2 separate regions of the Homo sapiens genome follow, and region 1 is linked to region 2. Evidence: fine-mapped QTL for protein levels in blood plasma. A gene starts in region 2. The other region holds a variant in brackets. All regions are shown on one strand. Distances are between the middles of the regions. Region 1 has its middle 13 kb from the start of LTBR. Region 2 holds the start of LTBR (lymphotoxin beta receptor).

Region 1 (10,569 bases), 17 kb before region 2:
GTCTTACTACAATTTCTAAAACACTGCCACCAACCACCAAATACTGGTCTTACCAGAATTTCTAAAACACTGCCACCATCATCACGAGGTCAGGAGATTGAGACCATCCTGGCTAACATGGTTAAACCCCACCTCTATTAAAAATAAAAAAAATTAGCTGGGTGTGGTGATGGGCGCCTATAGTCCCAGCTACTCAGGAGGCTGAGGCAGGAGAATGGCGTGAACCCGGGAGGCGGAGCTTGCAGTGAGCCGAGATCGCGCCACTGCACTCCAGCCTGGGTGACAGAGCAAGACTCCGTCTCAAAAAAATAAATAAATAAAATAAATAAAAATAAAAAATAAAAAAAAACACTGCCACCATCACCAAATGCTGGTCCTACTAGAATTTCTAAAACACTGCCACCAACCACCAAATGCTGGTCTTACTAGAATTTCTAAAACTGCCACCAACCACCAAATGCTGGTCTTACTAGAATTTCTAAAACACTGCCACCATCACCAAATGCTGGTCTTACTAGAATTTCTAAAACACTGCCACCATCACCAAATGCGGGTGAAGATGTGCAACAGGAACTCTCATTCATTGCTTTTGGGAATGCAAAATGATATAGTCACTTTGGAGACAGGTTGGCAGTTGCTTTTTCCTTTTTCTTTTCTTTTTTTTTTTCACTTTGTGAGACAGTCTCGCTCTGTCTCCCAGGCTGGAGTGCAGGGTGGGATCACATCTCACTGCAGCCTCGACCTCCCGGGCTCTAGAAATCCTTTCACCTCAGCCCCTCAAGTAGGTGGGACTAGAAGCACACATCAGCACACCAGGCTAATTTTTGTATTTTTTTTTGTGAGACAGGGTTTAGCCATGTTGCCTAGGCTAGTCTCGAGCTTGTGGACTTAAGCGATCTGCCTGTCTCAGCATAAGGAAAGACAGAAACTGTCACAGATCAGAGAAGACTAAATATTAAGGGATCATAATCACTAAGTGCAATGTGGTATCCTGGATTGGATTCTGGAACAGAAAAAGGATTTAAGGAAAAAAACTGGTGAAATCTAAATAAAATCTGTAGTTTAGTTGATATGTTAATTTCTTAATTAGTTTTGACAAATGTATCATGGCTATGTGAGATATTAACATTAAGGGCAGCTGGGTGAAAGGTATACCAAAACCCTCTGTACTATCTTTGCAACTTTTCTGTAATTCTAAAATTTTTCCAAACTAAAAACTCATTAAGAAAAAAAACCCAAATGAGCCAGGCGTGATGGTTCATGTCTGTAATCCCAGCACTTCGGGAGGCCGAAATGGGCAGATGGCTTGAGGCCAGGAGTTCAAGGCCAGCTTGGCCAACATGGCGAAACCCCGTCGCTACTAAAAATACAAAAATTAGCCAGGTGAGTGGGCGCCTGTAATCCCAGCTACTCGGGAGGCTGAGGCAGGAGAATCGCTTGAACCTGGGAGGCAGAGGTTGCAGTGAGCCAGGATAGCACCGCTGCACTCCAGCCTGAGCGACAAGAGGGAGACTCCATCTTAAAAACAAACAAACAAACAAATACTAACTGATGGGGATATAAGTCAAAATAGGAAAGTGGATATCTCTGGGATGTCATATGTCTGCCAGAATATAAACTGGAACTCAAGCAGTAAGCATGACTGAGTGGAAAGTGGCATGAAGTTATCTTCTAAGGAAGTAAAATGTTGCATATCTTCTGTGATGGTAACATGGGTATATACCTATGTAACACTTCTTCAGGCTATACACTTAAGATTAATATACTTTATATACTTTACAGGCCGGGTGAAGTGGCTCATGACTGTAATCCAAGTACTTTGGGAGGCCAAGGCAGGTGGATCACTTGAGGTCAGGAGTTCGAGACCAGCCTGGCCAACATGGTGAAACCCCATCACTACTAATAATACAAAAATTAGCCAGGTGTGGTGGTGCACGCCTGTAGTCCCAGCTACTAGGGAAGCTGAGACAGGAGAATCTCTTGAACCTGGGAGGCAGAGGTTGCAGTGAGCCGAGATTATGCCACTGCACTTCAGCCTGGGCAACAGAGTGAAAAAAAAAATATATATACACACACACACACACACACACACACACATATTTTATATATATGTGTGTATATATACACTATATACACATATTTTATATGTATGTGTGTATATATACACACACACACACATATAACATATATATTTATATATATATACTTTACTACACTGGAAAAAAATTTTACTGGTTTCCTATTGCTCTTAGGGTAAAGTTCAAAATTGCTGTAGTCTGTAAGTCTGAATGACGTGTTACCCGCCTACTTCTCTAGCTTCATCTCTCTATTCCCAAGTTCCAGCCAAACTATTCTTCCTATCACAGGGCCTTTGCACGTACCATTTAACCCACCAGCAGAGCTCTCCTCTCCAACACCCCTTCAATTTGGCTAGCCCTTATTTATTCTTCAGGTTGTATCTTAAATTTCCTCAGGGAGGAATTTCCTCATCTCCAGACCTAGAATCGGTCACTGGTTATATGTTGTGCTTCTCTTTTGTAGCACTTGTCTACAAAAGCAATAATTGTGATTATTTTACAAGCTCCAGAAGTTTATGTATCAGGTCTGTCTCGTTGGCTGTTGTATCTTAAGATGACTAGTACATAGTAAATTCTCACTTAATGTTTACCAAATGTTAATTTGAATGTGAGGCTCAGATTAAACAAACTAATACCCAAGGCCATAAAATATGAGCTGGGACCCACGCCCACCAATAAATCCTGTTGACTCTATCTCTAAGGCATATCTCCAACCTTCCACCTTTCTCCATCTCCCTATTGCAGTAGCCTTTGATCTGGTCTTTCCGTTTCTATTATTTATTCATTATCCATTGGATTATTATGAAATAATAAGATATGGATACTTCCTTAGCATAATAAAATAAATATACGTATTTCAACTGCTGCTTAATGAGAAAATACTGGAAGTATTGCCCTTAAAATCAGGATTGAGACAGAGCTGTCCATTACTATTTACTATTGTTCTGGAGGTACTATGAGATGCATTTAGATGAGATTTAAAAATATTAGGGCCAGGCGCGGTGGCTCACGCCTGTAATCCCAGCACTTTGGGAGGCCAAGGTGGGCAGATTGCTTGAGCCTAGGAGTTCAATACCAGCCTGGGCAACATGGCAATAACTTGTTTCTAGAAAAATTATTATGAAATTAGCATTATTTGTAGGTGATAACCTAAGAAAATTAATTGAAAAACTGTTATAGGCCAGGTGCGGTGGCTCACACCTGTAATCCCAGCACTTTGGGAGGCCAAGGTGGGCAGATTGCTTGAGCCTAGGAGTTCGGTACCAGCCTGGGCAACATGGCAATAACTTGTTTCTAGAAAAATTACTATGAAATTAGCATTATTTGTAGGTGATAACCTAAGAAAATTAATTGAAAAACTGTTATAGGCCAGGTGTGGTGGCTCACACCTGTAATCCCAGCACTTTGGGAGGCCAAGGTGGGCAGATTGCTTGAGCCTAGGAGTTCGGTACCAGCCTGGGCAACATGGCAATAACTTGTTTCTAGAAAAATTATTACAAAATTAGCATTATTTGTAGGTGATAACCTAAGAAAATTAATTGAAAAACTGTTATAGGCCAGGCGCGGTGGCTCACGCCTGTAATCCCAGCACTTTGGGAGGTCGAGGTGGGCAGATCATAAGGTCAGGAGATCGAGACTATCCTGGCTAACACGGTGAAACCCCGTCTGTACTAAAAATACAAAAAATTAGGCGGGCGTGGTGGCGGGCGCCTGTAGTCTCAGCTACTAGGGAGGGTGAGGCAGGAGAATGGCGTGAACCCGGGAGGCGGAGCTTGCAGTGAGCTGAGATCACACCACTGCACTCCAGCCTGGGTGACAGAGTGAGACTCTGTCTCAGAAAAGAAACAAAAACAAAACAAAACAAAAAAACTATTATAGATCATGAGGGAATTCAGTAGGTGGCTGGGGAAAAAGAAAGAAAACAAAACTAAAAAATCCCATTTTTATAGCACTTATAAAGGTAAAACACCAAGGAATGACTATAATGAGAAATGCCCATATTAAGGAAACATTAAAATGCTACTGAGGACACAAAGAGGAGGGTATCAACAAATAGAAGGGTATATCATGTTCTTGAAAAGAAGACCCGGCCCGGCACGGTAGCTCATGCCTGTAATCCCAGCACTTTGGAAGGCTGAGGCAGGTGGATCACTTGAGGTCAGGAGTTCGAGACCAGCTTGGCCAATATGGTGAAACCCCATCTCTACTAAAAATACAAAAATTAGTCGGGCATGGTAGCATGCACCTGTAATCCCAGCTACTCAGGAGGCTGAGGCAGGAGAATCGCTTGAACCCGGGAGGCGGAGGTTGCAGTGAGCCGAGATCGCACCACTGCACTCCAGCCTGGGTGACAGAGCGAAACTCTGTCTCAAATTAAAAACAAACAAACAAACCCAACACACTAATTGATTTGTAAATTCAATACAATCTCAAAACACATCCTCAAAGGAGCCTTTCTTTTGGAGGGGGAGTGAACTAAATAAACAGGTCCTAAAATTCATGTGGAAAAGGAAGAAAATATAGTTAGAAAAATTCTTAAAAACAGAGAATAAAAGGAGCTACTGGCCCTAATAGATATTAAAATATAAAGCTAAAACAATTGAAAGACTGTAATGTTGGCAAATTGAAAAGACGGATCAATGAGAGAGAATTGAAAATCCAGAAGTAAATTCAAACTTGCACAAAAACTTGGCTTATCATAACAGTAGTTTTAAATTAGTGAAGAAAAAATTATTGTTCAATAGATGACTGGAGATAAAAAGATAACATTTGAAAACTAATAGAAATATAGGAGGCCAAGTGTGATGGCTCACACCTGTAATCCCAGCACTTTGAAGACTGAGGCAGAAGGAGCTCAGGAGTTTGAGACCAGCCTGGGCAACATGGTGAAACCTCATCTCTACAAAAAATTTAAAAAGTAACCTGGCGTGGTGGTGTGTGTCTGTAGTCCCAGCTACTGGAGAGAGGCTGAGGTGGGAGAATCACTTGAGCCTGGGAGGTGGAGGCTGCAGAGAGTTGTGATTGGGCCACTGCACTCCAGCCTGGGTGACAGAGCAAGACCCTGTCAAAAAAAAAAAAAAAAAGAAAAATAGAGATATGAACAGTCAGTAGAAAATAAATTACAACTGGCTCTTTAACATATGAAATGTTCACTCATATGAAATGAAATACTCATTCACAGTGAAGTGAAAAACTTCACTCGCAATAAGAAATCCAAATAAAAATTACACTGAGATAACTTTTTTTTTTCTATCTTTCAGTTTGGCAAAGATCAAAATATTTGATAACACATCAAAGTTGGTGTTTATGTAAGGAAATGGACACTTAAAAATTTCCGATGTTCGGCCGGGCACGGTGGCTCATGCCTGTAATCCCAGCACTTTGGGAGGCCGAGACGGGCGGATCACAAGGTCAGGAGATCAACACCATCCTGGCTAACACGGTGAAACCCTATCTCTACTAAAAATACAAAAAAATTAGCCGGGTGTGGTGGCAGGCGCCTGTAGTCCCAGCTACTCAGGAGACTGAGGCAGGAGAATGGCGTGAACCCGGGAGGCGGAGCTTGCAGTGAGCCCAGATTGCGCCACTGCACTCCAGCCTGGGTGACAGAGTGAGACTCCATCTCAAAAAAAAAAAAA[T/AT]TCCGATATTCCATCTCTATGGAAGACAAATTAGCAACATTTATCAAAACGAAATGTATGTACCTTTTAACCAGGAAATTTTATTTCCAGCAATTTTTTTTGTAGCAGTACTTCCACATGTGCAAAATGACATAGGTTATTACTGTAGTGTTGTCTGTAATAGTAAAGGTTGGAGATGAATTAAAAATTCTCAAAAGGGATCCAGTTAAATGGTACAGCCAGGTGATAGAATACCACACAGATAGAAAAATGAATGAGAACTTTTTTTGGTACTAATATGGTATTATGGCCAAGCTCTTTTAATAAATGAAAAAGGCAAGGGGAAGAACTTACAGAACATCGTGTACAGTAGTCCACCCTCCTCCAAGGGGGATACATTCCAAGGCCCCCAGTGGATGCCTGAAACCGTGGATAGCACTGAACCCGATTGCTGTCAGTCAAAACACGTTTCTGTTCATGTCTTCCACCCAGAAATTTGATGCCTTTTCCAACTTAACTAAGCACTTATCATGCACCATGACTTTTGCAGTTTAAGGTGTGACAGCAAAACTAGTTTGAATTTCTTTTTTTCTGCTTCACAACTTCATGAATAGAAGGTGCATTGTTATGCAGATCTTAGCAAAGTCATCAAAGGAAGCATATTATGGCTTCTCTTTGGCATATCTGAATGACCAGTATCACCACTCTTGCACTTTGAGGCCATTATGAAGTAAAATAAGGGTGACTTGAACACAAGCATGCAATATCTCAACAGTTGGTCTGATCACTGGGAAGGCTTGTAAGTGACTAAGGGGTAGGGAGCGTCTGCAGGGAGGAGATGCTGGACAAAGGGAGAATTCATGTCTTGAAGGGACAGGAGTAGTGTTACCAACCACAGGGCCTTGGGGGTTGTTAATGCAATAGAAGTTAACATGAGGCCAAAAGAGTTTTCCCAGACAAGGCTTTATTAGAGCTTATGCAGGGCATAAGGGAGGCAGCACGAGAGAGAGAATTCTCTGGCTGGCTCCTGGAAGAGACTCAAGAGAACTAAAGGAACTAAAGGAGAATTAAAGGAACTAAAGTGGGAAGGGAGTGAGTTTGAGCAGGTAGAGATGAGGAAATTTTGGCACCTGTTCAGTTTGATAACATGCTTCTTTATGCATCGTGTGTCTCATTAGCATGTTAAGTCTCCACCCCGGTGTGATTTTTAGTATTATAATGAAGATAAGGCAAAGGAGCGCTCATTCTTCTGGTCCTGTGGTATACATACGGGAGATAGGGTTAACTCCTTTGAGTAAGATTCAAGGTGGGAGCTGCTTATTTTAATTTCTACAACTAGTGGGTTTGGCACCTGGAGTAAGATTTATGGTGGGACGTTGTTCATCTTAGTCTCTCTAAGGGTCTGCGATGAGTGGGTATAGTACCTTGAGCAAGATTCATGGTGCAAGGTCTGGACAGTCTGGTTGGGGTCCTCACTGGCCACACACCCCCACCCCAGCTTACAATAGAGGTTCTTGGTAGGGCACGAGTGGGGCCCGAGTCCCATCCCTACTCTGTCTCAGTAGGACAGCTTGAGGTTTCATCATGCTGTTCAGAACAGTGCACAATTTAAAACAGATGAATTGTTTCTTTCCGGAATTTTCCATTTAATATTTTTGGACCACAGTTGACAGCAGATAACTGAAACCATGGAAAGCAAAATCACAAACAAGAAAAAAAAATAACAAACAAGGGGGGACTACTGTAGTACCATCTGTAGAAATAAAAAAGCAAAGGAATCTATTTATATATATTTGTTTGAATATGCATAAATTACCTCTGGAAAAGCATCAGAAACAGTAACATTGGTTGCTTCCAGAGCAGGGACCTTGGTGGTTGGGGGATAGGAGTGAAAGAGAGACATTTCACTGTTTACTCTTTGATACTTTTTGAATTTTGACCCATGTGAATAAATCAACCATCCGAAAGAGAGGAAATAAATACAATTAAAACTAAAAAAGAAAAGGAACACCAAACACTATGATTTACACAAATGGGAACTTTTTTTTTCTCTCATAAAAAGAAGCCCAGGAGTAGGTGCTGTGCTTACTTACTGTTGATTTGGGTCTCAGTGATGCCTTGGGAGCCAGGTTCTGTCCTTTCTTCCAGGTCCTCAGAGGACTGGCTTTTTATCCCCGTGGCGGTTTCCTCATGATGGTAAGATGGCTGCCACAGCTCAGGAGTGATGTTGTCACACGCAAAATCCCCAAAACAAAAAATAAGGGCCAAGGCAAACCAAAAACTTTCTCCTAATGGTGCTTTATACCCTGGAAAGGAAGACTTCCCTGTGCATGTCATTGTACAATTGCAAAGAAGAATGAGTTTATTGGCTCCTGGGATTGGGGGAAGGGCCTCTTCTCCTGATGTCACGGAATCTCTGCTCTAGTACAAAAATGCGGTTCTGTCCTTAGGAAATGTGCAGAAGTCTGTTGGACAGGCAGCAGAAAGAGTCCACCACAGCTGTCTATGTGAACCGCTTTATCTTTTGAAAAGGGAAGTTCTTACTGACCCTTGTTGGGCTGACCCTGCCGGTACTCACAGTGCTTCCTGCGGGAAAAGACTAGAGTGAGTCTCCTGTGAAGTCTCAGACTGGTGGGGAAGCCGAACGCCCACCTCCCATCCACTGTGTCCACTGGAGAAACCGAGCATCCAGGGACTCCTCTGCGTGTGGCACTGTGCGGGCTTGGGGAGGAGTGGCGTGGTCAGAAAGCAGCCATCCCCTTACCGTCCTCATGGTTTTTCTTGGCTCTGCCATCCCAGGGGATGCAAAGCTTCACTCCAAGTTCTGGGATATTCAGGGTGGTAAACTTGCCACAGGATTGTTGCTAGTTGAAATTCTGTTGGGGAGGAGAGAAGCCGGAGAACTCCTACTTTGACATTGTGTTGATGCCACTCTCAAAAAGGGAAATTCTGAATTACCCCATCCTCCCCCATCTCCCTGTGCTACTGCTCTGTCCCCAGTTCCATCCACCTTTCTTCTGGACTACAGCCTTGGCCCCCTAACGGGTGTCCCACCCCCGTGTTGATGTGGGTTGGACTTGGTGTTAGCTTTCTCCTCCCTGTGGTAGAGGATTAGGGTTCTCACAACCAACAGTTACCCCATTGTCAACTGCCATTGCATCCTGTTGCATCTTTTGAAGACCACCATCAAGAGGCTGTCTTTGTTGGTTTTCTGCCAGCTTTTCCTTGTAGACAGGAGCTCCCCTCTACGTGGCCTGTGCTCTGTGGATGTGTCCTGGAGCCTGTACTGACTCCACACTGGCAAAATAGACATGGGTAATGCTGTGGGTGGAACTGTGTCTCCCTCCAAAATCCACGTGCTGAAGCCCTAACTCCCAGGACCTCAGAATGGGGCCTTATTTGGAGACAGGGGCTTTAAAGAGGTGACTAAGTTAAAATGAGGTCATCAGGATGGGCCCTAATCCACTAAGAGAAGATTAGGACACACTCATGCACAAAGGCAAGACCATGTGAAGACATAGGTGGCAGGAAGGCCACCATTAGCAGGCCAAGGACAGAGGCCTCAGAGGACACCAACCTTGCCAACACGTTGACCTCTGACTTCCAGCCTCCAGAGCTGTGAGAAGATAAATCTCTGCAGCTTAAGCTATCGAGTCTGCAGTACTTTGTTATGGCGGCCCTAGAAAATTAATTTAGGCAGCCCAGGTGCAGTGGCTCATGCCTGCAATCTCAGCTCTTTGGGAGGCTGAGGTGGGAGGATCACTTGATCCCAGGAGTTTGAGACCAGCCTGGACAACATAGCAAGACCCCACTTCTTAAAAAAGAAATTAAAAAAAAATTAGCCAGGTGTGGTGGCACGCATCTGTAGCTCTAGCTACGTGGGAGGCTGAGGTAGGAAGATCATTTGAGTCTAGGAGCTGAGGCTATATGAGCCACGATTATACCACTGCACTCAAGCCAGGGCGACACAGTAAGACCCTGTCTCTAAAAAAATACAGGCAGGTATAATTATAAATTTGAATGGTGTCACAAAGGGCTGTGCTTCAGCATCATTTCTTTCAAAATATTTTCCTCCTTTTATTTTGTTGAAAAAAATGTATAAAATTTGTTTTTTATCTAAACACATTAGAACAATTATTAAGAATTCATGAGGTCTGGCCCCAGCATATTGCAGGGGCAGGAGGATTTAACTTTATTTAAAGATACAGCTCACCATTATTTACTTTTCAAAAAAGGAAGTTGGATGTGATATTTTCACAGTCAACCTTAAATGACCCATCCACTCCATTGGATCAGACGCCTTCTGAGGTGTGTGTTTTGCAGCCGCCCCACCCTGATGAGCTCCAGCGACAGAGTTCCTCATATCAGACCCATGAGAGTGGCCTTTTATGGAAGGAGCAGCCGGCTGGCAGCAGCTCCCTAACAATCCTGCAAGCTAAGATCCTCTCGACCGAGCACAGGAGAGAATTCAGGGGCAGGGAGGGGCAAACATTTACTAATAAGAGGGCTTGAGAAGATTTAAAGTCCTTTTTGGGGGTAAAAATAAAAGAAGACAAAAAGAAACCAAAAAAGTAAAAATCATAAATACTCTTTCTGAACCAAAAGGAGGCCAGCCTAGATTTCTGTTCACCAACAAAATGTGAACTTGGCCTCTCTCATTTTATGTCTAAAGTGCACACCTCAGGTCAGGCACGGTGGCTCTCACGCCTGTAATCACTGCATGTTCAGAGGCCAAGGCAGGAGGATTGCTTGAGCCCAGGAGTTCGAGACCAGCCTGGGCAACACAGGGAGACCTGATCTCTACTAAAAATACAAAAAATTAGCTGGGCGTCGTGGCACACACCTATAGCCCCAGCTACTTGGGAGGCTGAGGT
Region 2 (8,000 bases):
GGCCCAAGGCAGGAGCATGGCGGCCACTCGGCCAGGCGGCCAGCAACGTGGGGGCCTGGGAGGAAGGCAGGAGGCCCGACGTCCTGGGCAGCGGTGGCGGCGGCTGCCCGAGCCCAGAGCCTGGGACGGGACTCAGGGCCGATGTGCACCCCAGGGCCGGGAGCGGCCAGGCCGGGCCTCCAGGGCTCCCATGGCGGAGCTCAGGAAGTGGGAGTGGAGCGAGCTGGCCGCGGGGCGGGGACAGGGAGCGCTGGGAGCCAGGCCGGCCTGTCGCAATCGCAGCCCAGGGAAGAGGAACAGGCTTGTCTGCCTCGATGCGGGGCGGGAGGGGCGGCCGGGAAAGCACGTGAGGGCCGCGGGGCCGGAACCGGCCTCCTCCCTTCTTCGGAAGCCCGATCGGGAGAGCGGACTGCGGACAGCCCTGGCCCAGCCGAGGGAAGGGCGGCGGGCCCGGGGTCAGCCCTTGGACAAGCCTCGCAGGGAGAGCAGAGGGAGTTCCAGAGAGCGCAAGGGACAGCTGGGTGCGGGATCTGGAAAGCGAGGGGCCCAGGACGGGCAGTCATGGAGAGGGCAGGGCGCGGGGACTGCAAGGCCGCAGAAGCAGCTCTGAGACCGAGGAGAACCGGCTGGCAGATGCCCGGGTTCCTCCCCCGTTGTCCTGCCCTACTGTGGGAGTTTTTCAGACAAATTACAAGGGACTAGCAAATCAGCCAGCCCCCCACGCTACCAACCCAGCCCAATCCGCACAGGAGTGGGCACAGGTCACCTAGGAGACCCTTGAGAGCTGTGCAGCTTGCCCTGCTCCCTGTCCTCAGGGAACCTCCCTCCCAAAGAGAGGGGGAGGATATGCGGAGGGGAGTCCTGGGGCCAGCAGGCTGGACCTGGGCACTCAGTCCCTCTGCTCTGGCTTCTTTGCCCATGAACCTTCAAACCCCTTAGAACTGGAGAAAGCTGAGAGCCCACGCAGTCCAGCCCCCTCACCTTAAGCATGGAGAGGGAGGCTAAGGGTGATACATAAGGGAACCGGGATTCCAGGGTGGCCTGGTCTCGTTCCTGCCCTGTTTCATCCTCCCATCTCCCTCAACCCAACACCCCACCCACCCGTGGAGTTACTTGCAGCTGCCCCCTTTTACACGTGGTTCTCTGGTCCCCAAGTTTCCGTCTTCCTAACTCCCACCTGTCCTTGAGGCTTCACTGAGGCTCTGGAAGGCAACCTCTGCCCTAGGTTGCACAGTCCCCGTGAAGACTGCCCTCTGTACCTGGCTGTCTTGTTTGCTTCCCACCAGGCTGTGAGTGCCACCATGGCCCAGGCTGAATCTTCAAGTCTGTGTTCCCCATGCTTAGCAGAGTCTGGCACATACCATGTGCCCAATAGGTATTTATGGAATAAATGAGTGATGGCCACATCACAGAGCCAGTCCACCGCAGAGCCAGCTACAATCTGGGTCTCCTGATGTCTAGGTCCCAACTCATTCCAGCAGTCCTGCCAACTCCTTGTGGCTCAGGGATGTCTCCCTTGGGATGAGGGGCTAACCTCTCTTGAGATAGGTCACTTGGGCACTATCCCCCTCCCTGAAGGACTCTGTTCAGCACTCGTCCTTACACTGGTCTGTCTAACTTCAGGTCTGATGTCTGGACAGGTGCAGGTGATGGGAAGTGTGCATGGGGAGGAGAGGTCACAAAAGGGGGAAAGGACCTGCCTAGGCTGTAGGCATTTCACTCTGTGAGGCTCTCTCCCCTCACCTGGTGCAGGCAGCTCACCGTACAGATGGGCCAAAGATGGCTGGAAAGGGCAGAAGTATCAGAACAGCATGCACTGCGCGGGGCTGCTGAGCCTTCCAGGGCCCTAGCGCTGGGGGCTGGGATGAGAGTCCCTGCTGAGCTCTTAAACGCGTAAAGGAATGTGTGTGTAGCGACCCTAGGTCCTTTTTTCTCTCTCTTCTTTTTACTTTTTACTGTGGAAATTCCACATGCAAGATAATATACCAAAAGAGAAAAAGTAATATTGGGAGTCTCCCATATACTCCTTACCCAGCTTCAACTCACTGTCAGTTTCATTTATTCTGTATACCCCCTCCCCCACCAACGCACACACTCTTCAAATCCCTCATTATTATTTTGAAGTAAATCCCAGACATCATATCATTTCATTTGAAAATATTTCAGGATTTTACCCTAAAAGACAGGGACTCTTTCTCTATTCTATTTTTCTTTTTTTCCCCACCCTGTCTTATGCTGCTGAGACCCTTTCTTTTAATAGAGGTGTAACATATAATACAATGAAACCGTAAGGTACACTGATCTTACAGATACAGCTCAGAGAGTCTTCACTTTTGTGTATTCTTGCATATCCCCCAACTGGTCCAGAACACCTCTTCTCTTCTCTTCTTTTCTCTTTTCCTTTCCATACAGAGTCTCGCTTTGTCGCCCAGGCTGGAGTGCAGTGGTGCAATCTCGGCTCACTACAACCTCTGCCTCCCAGGTTCAAACAATTCTCTGCCTCAACCTCCCGAGTAGCTGGGATTACGGGCGCCTGCCACCATGCCTGGCTGATTTTTGTATTTTTAGTAGAGATGGGGTTTCGCCATGTTGACCAGGCTGGTCTTGAACTCCTGATGTTGTGATCCACCCGCCTTGGCCTCCCAAAGTGCTGGGATTACAGGCGTGAGCCACGGCACCCGGCCCCAGAATGTTCCTTGCACTACAAATGTTTGCTACATGCCCTTCCCAGTCAAAGCTTCCTGCTTCACAGGTAACCACTATGTCCAGACCCCTTTTAACCCCAGCTGGCTGGACTGTATGTTTCTTTCTGCTGCCAGCCGTAAGCTGGCGCTTCAGCCCTCATGGACTCTCTACACCCTAAGGAACGAGCCCTGAGATCTGGGTTTTGATCCTGGCCCCATCACTTTATCTCTGTGTGCCTCTTTATTGTGTCAGTCAGCTACTGGTTTGCTTGCAGGTCTGTGGGATGGAGGTGGGATGGGAGGAGTGAAGCAGCCAGGCTATTTCTCTCCTCTCTGCTTTCTGGCTTCACCTGCAGTTGGTTGTCTTCCTTCCTTCCCCACTTCCATAATCCCATCTCCTACCAGTAGTCCACACTATTTAGTTCCTGCCAAATGGCTCTGGAGGCTTCTTGGTCTTTGATGCTACATCACCCTGCCATCTTTCCAGGCCTAGAGATGGTAGCTGCTTCCCGCTCTGCTGTTTTCTGAGCTGCCTCCCATTGTCTTCTCAGCTCCTCCATCACCCATGTACCAGTTAGTTCTCTGTGTTAAACTTCTTCTGTTTGAAAGACTTAGAGTGTTTCTTGTTTCCCAGCTGGATCACGAAAGACAAATCTTACCAATAAATGGCTACTATAATGCCCAGCCATCCCCAGGAGGATAAAGGGAGACTCCAGGGGTGAGAAATCCACAGGTTCACCGCGGGCAGGGCATTGTCTTTACTCCTGTCCTTTTGTGTTTTTCACCAGAGCCTCCTGAGACTGATTTCCACTGGGCAACACCAGACCCAGACCGAGCACCCCAGGACGCCTAGAAGGTGTGTGAGGGTGGGACTCTTCTCCCAGGCCTTCTTCCGAAGGAGCTGCTGAGAGAGCCTTCTTTCCACAGGCCCATTAGGCATCCAGAAAGGGGGCTGATGGAAATGGATTCTTCTTCTTCTTCTTCTTCTTTTTTTTTTTTTTTTGAGACAGAGTCTCAGTCTGTCGCCCAGGCTGGAGTGCAATGGTGCAATCTCAGCTCACTGCAACCTCCGCCTCCCAGGTTCAAGTGATTTTCCTGGCCTCAGCCTCCCAAGTTGAGTAGCTGGGACTACAGGCATGCGCCAACAGGCCCGGCTAATTTTTGTATTTTTAGTAGAGATGGTGTTTTGCCATGTTGGCCACAGGCTGGTTTTGAATTCCTGGTCTCAAGTCATTTCGCCCACCTTAGCCTCCCAAAGTACTGGGATTACAGGCACGAGCCACTGTACCCGGCCAGGAATGGATTCTTCTAAATACTTTTTCTTTCTCTCTTCTTCTCCACTCTGCTCTTAGCTGACTAGTGCTCTTGGAAATGGTCTGGCAAACACCCAGAAGTGCATAACAGATGAGGGTTGTCCTTTTCCAGAGTATTTGCATTTTCAGTGGTGACAATGCCTTAACCCAGTCTTTTCAACGGGGGTGACTTTGCCCCCCAGAAGTCATTTGGCAATATTTGGAGATGTTTTGGTCACAATGACTCAGGAGGTGCTACTAGCATCTAATAGATGGAAGCCAGGGATGCTGCTGAACATCCTGCACAGGATTGTAGATAGGACAGAATCATCCTGTCCCACCACAAAGAATGATACAGCCGAAAATGTCAATAGTGCCAAGGTTGATAAACCCTGTCTTCAATCAAAGTGATAAACTTCTAGTAGTGAACTTCTTTTTTTGTTTTTTTTTTTGTTTTTTTTTTTTTTGAGACAGAGTCTTGCTTTGTCTCCCAGGCTGGAGTGCAGTGGCACGATCTTGGCTCACTCCAAGCTCCACCTCCCCGGTTTTATGCCATTCTCCTGCCTCAGCCTCCCGAGTAGCTGGGACTACAGGCGTGCACCACTTATGCCCAGCTAATTTTTTTTGTAATTTTAGTAGAGACGGGGTTTCACCATGTTAGCCAGGATGGCCTCGATCCCCTGACCTCATGATCCACCCGCCTCGGCCTCCCAAAGTGCTGGGATTACAGGCGTGAGCCACCATGCCCGGCCAACTTCTAGTAGTGAACTTCTAAGTAAACTGCCAGGGGACTAGATGAAGAGTGGCATTTTTCTGGTCCATCATTTTAAATGAAAGAGAAATCTGTACCACATAAGGGCAGCTGAAAGGACTGTTGTCTTCCACAGTGGGCAGCCCCCAGTGTGAAGTGGCTAATTAGCTCCAAGTAGTAAGAATAAAGAGTTGCATTTAACTAAGTAACTGATTCTTATCCTGGAAAGGATAGAAGTGAACAGGGAAAAGTGAAGAAAATTTAGATAAATTAATAGACCACAAATAAATGGGTTGTCAGAGGAAGTTAGGATGTTTGAAGTTTTGCAGATGCTTTTTCGTAGCATATCCCGCTCTGTCAAAGATAAACTAGGAAAGACGCCAGTTCTGCTGTCTTCTGCAGACTGGGTCAGCAAACAGTGACCGCTAGACACTGAGGTCACCAAGATGAATACGCCTGGTCTCTGTCCTTGTGTTGCGGGAAGTCAGGGACCCCAAACGGATGTATACGTACAAACACACATACATCAGGATAATAGTAAATAATAATAATAAATAATAGTAAACAGTGGTAAGTGCAGAGATAGGCTCTCCCTAGGAGGGTGGAGTGATTACTTCCGTCATCTCCTGTCCGCGGAGAACAAGAGGCAGGAAGACCCTTTGCACTCATAACCCTCATCCCATGGCAGCCCCTCTGGTTTCACTTCTCTCCCTGCAGCCGTGCATATTTTATGGCCACACCACAGGGTTAGAGGATAGCTGGTGTTGGGAGGGGAAGGCAGCCCTGGGTTGGCGGGAAGGGCTGGGGCTCTGGGGGAGTCTGGGGGTAGTCCTGGGAAGGCAGGGGGTCCTTCCAAGACAGAGTCTACAAAGCTCTTGACTTCTTATAGAACAAAACTGTACTTCTCTCAAAGTCAGAGAAGGAGAACTGGGCTTGGAAAGGAGTGGCCTGGTTTTCAGTCTGACCCCACCCCTAACTCCTGGGTGACTGTGGCCAAGTCACTTTGCTTCTGTGGGCCTCAGTCCCCTCATGCATGAAGCAGGGGGCTAGATGCAAGGTCAGCTGGAAAAAGTCTTTGTCCATCTGGGTTGCCTTACCCACCCCTTCTTGCCCTTTCATTTTCTCAGGTAAGATCACCGGGGCCCATAGAGGTCAAGTGCCTTTCTCAAAGTCACATAGTTTAAAAGCAAAAATAGGGGCTGAGTATGGTGGCTCACACTTGTAATCCCAGCACTTTGGGAGGCTGAGGCAGGAGGACTGCTTGAGCCTAGGAGTTGGAGGCTGCAGTGAGCCATGATCATGCTGCTGTACTCCAGCCTAGAGGATAGTGCATGATCCTGTCTCTAAGATAAATAAGAAAATAAAAGCAAAAATGGAAGTTGTAGAAACATACCTATAGCATGGTCTCTGTCATAAAAAAGAACTATATATTTTGTTTTTTAAAAATACATGTAAGTTTATAAAGGCACACAAAAAGATATAGACAGATATACAAATTATGGTGGCTCCCCTTTGGGGAGGGAAAGGAAGGGGACTAAGGGAAGCTCTATATACTTCTGTATTGCTGAAAAATTGTACTGTGACAAAAACATATTTGTGTATTATTTGTACACTTTAAAAGATCATCTTTAAAATGGACTTCTGACCAAAGTCCAGGTCTCAGATTTCTATTTTCCTCACAACACCAAGCCTGTTCTAGCCCGCTCCAGGTCTAGAATGCTGCAGCACTAGGCTCGCATTGCCACTCCCATACCCGGCAGGACGTGGCAGGGTCACCACCCTTTGGCTCAGCCCAGACCAGGCATTGCAATTCTTCTCACAGAGCCCTTGATATGAAAACTATTTGCCATGCTGCCTTAAGCTAGTGGTTGGATTTCAGGCATGAGCTGGCAAATAGAAAAGGCAGGGAGGTGCTTTTCAGAACCTTTGAGATCAAACAGCCAGGGTGCTGAGCACCTTATTGCAGGGAGGACCATGCCCAATGTAAGGACCTGGCTCAAGGGAGACTGGAGTTTCTAGGGGTCTCTGGGATATGTGGGGCAGTGGGGACAGTGCAGAGACCTTTTCACAGAGCCAAGGAGATAACCCAGCACCCAGAGAGCAGACGAATCCACGGGCTCTGTGTGGGAGTGAGGGAGGCCTTCCCGGCTTTCACATCCAGGTGCACCTGAGCCCCGATCCCCCATGAGTCTGTCTCAGGAAGTAAATGGCAAAAGCGCTAAGTAGATAGCCCCAGAGGAGGAGGAGAATTCTGAATTCTGTTTATAGCTCTGCTCCTATTTTGTTTTCTAACCTCAGAAAACTGATTTATCCTTGGGAAGGGTCAGTTTCTTCATTAGGACAATGAAGAAAAATCCAGCTGTCCCTTCCAAGGGGAGGTATCATGAGCAGTATCAAGGTAAGCAAGGGAACCTGGTTTGGAATCCTGGTTGACACCGGCTTTCACTTTAAGAAGTCGCAAGAGACTGCCGCAAGAGAGGAAGCCACAGACCAGGTTGGACCCTGAGCCTGGAGTACTGCCTTTTCTCTTCTTTGCCTGCTAAACTCCTTGCTTGTCAAGATTCAGCAGAGATGACACCTTCTCTGGGAAGGCTTCCTGAGTCTCCTGCAGTGAGCCCCTAGGCTCCCCTAGCCCTTGGCTCTTATGTCTTATCTCTGAGAAATCTGAGATCTGCACTTTTGTTAGAAGTCCGTTTTAAAGACAATCTTTTAAAGTGTACAAATAGAAACCTTATCTTATTGTATTGCAGGCCTATCTCCTCCCCCGGTGTGTATCAATGCTCAGGCTGGGCCTTTGTCTGCTGGCTTGTGGAGGGAGGCAGGACAAGCCAGTGACCACATTCCTGCACTCTGGGCTGCCTCCTGTGGGGCCCGTGAGGAAGCGGCAGCCTTCCCTGCCGCGTGCAGGGCCTGGGTTGTGTGGGTGGCTCTCCCGAGTCTCCTCCAGCCCTTTTTGGGTCTGATTCTCTGACCCTCCTCTCTCTCCTTGCTCACCACTTGGCACTCCACTCCTTATCCTTTTGCTGCATTAAGTTTGGAAAGAGATTTTGGAGAAAATATAGCCCATCAACGAATTTCTCCTCCTCCCAGGGCCTGTCTAGGCGTGTGCCATGCCCACCCTCTTCCTTTCCAGCGCTGGCCACATCCTCCCTGCACCTTCAGTGCCTGCTTTCCCTGCCTCTTCCTGGGCTCCGGGTCTGTGTCCACAGTGTCCTGCGTGGCCCTCGCGCTGCCTCTGGTTGCCCACATTCCTGCAACTCTGTGACCACAGCA

Evidence for each region. PIP is the posterior inclusion probability: the model's chance that the variant is causal. The UK Biobank Pharma Proteomics Project read protein levels with antibody pairs (Olink). The fine-mapping took linkage between variants from a reference panel, not from the people measured, so its PIPs are less certain.
Region 1: its variant is fine-mapped to the plasma level of the LTBR protein (UK Biobank, PIP above 0.99).

What each region holds. Positions count from the first base shown.
Region 1 is chr12:6,392,219-6,402,787 of GRCh38, reverse strand. No RefSeq gene overlaps it. Among named protein-coding and RNA genes, the nearest start is that of LTBR, 13 kb to the right of the region's middle. The variant T/AT (reference allele first, on the strand shown) is at 5,717.
Region 2 is chr12:6,376,377-6,384,376 of GRCh38, reverse strand. It overlaps LTBR (lymphotoxin beta receptor), which reads right to left and starts at 215. Exons shown (of 10, transcript NM_002342.3): 1 at 1-215. The coding sequence starts at 18. It also overlaps a transcript of SCNN1A not described here. RefSeq lists enhancers at 297-1,162, 7,382-7,986.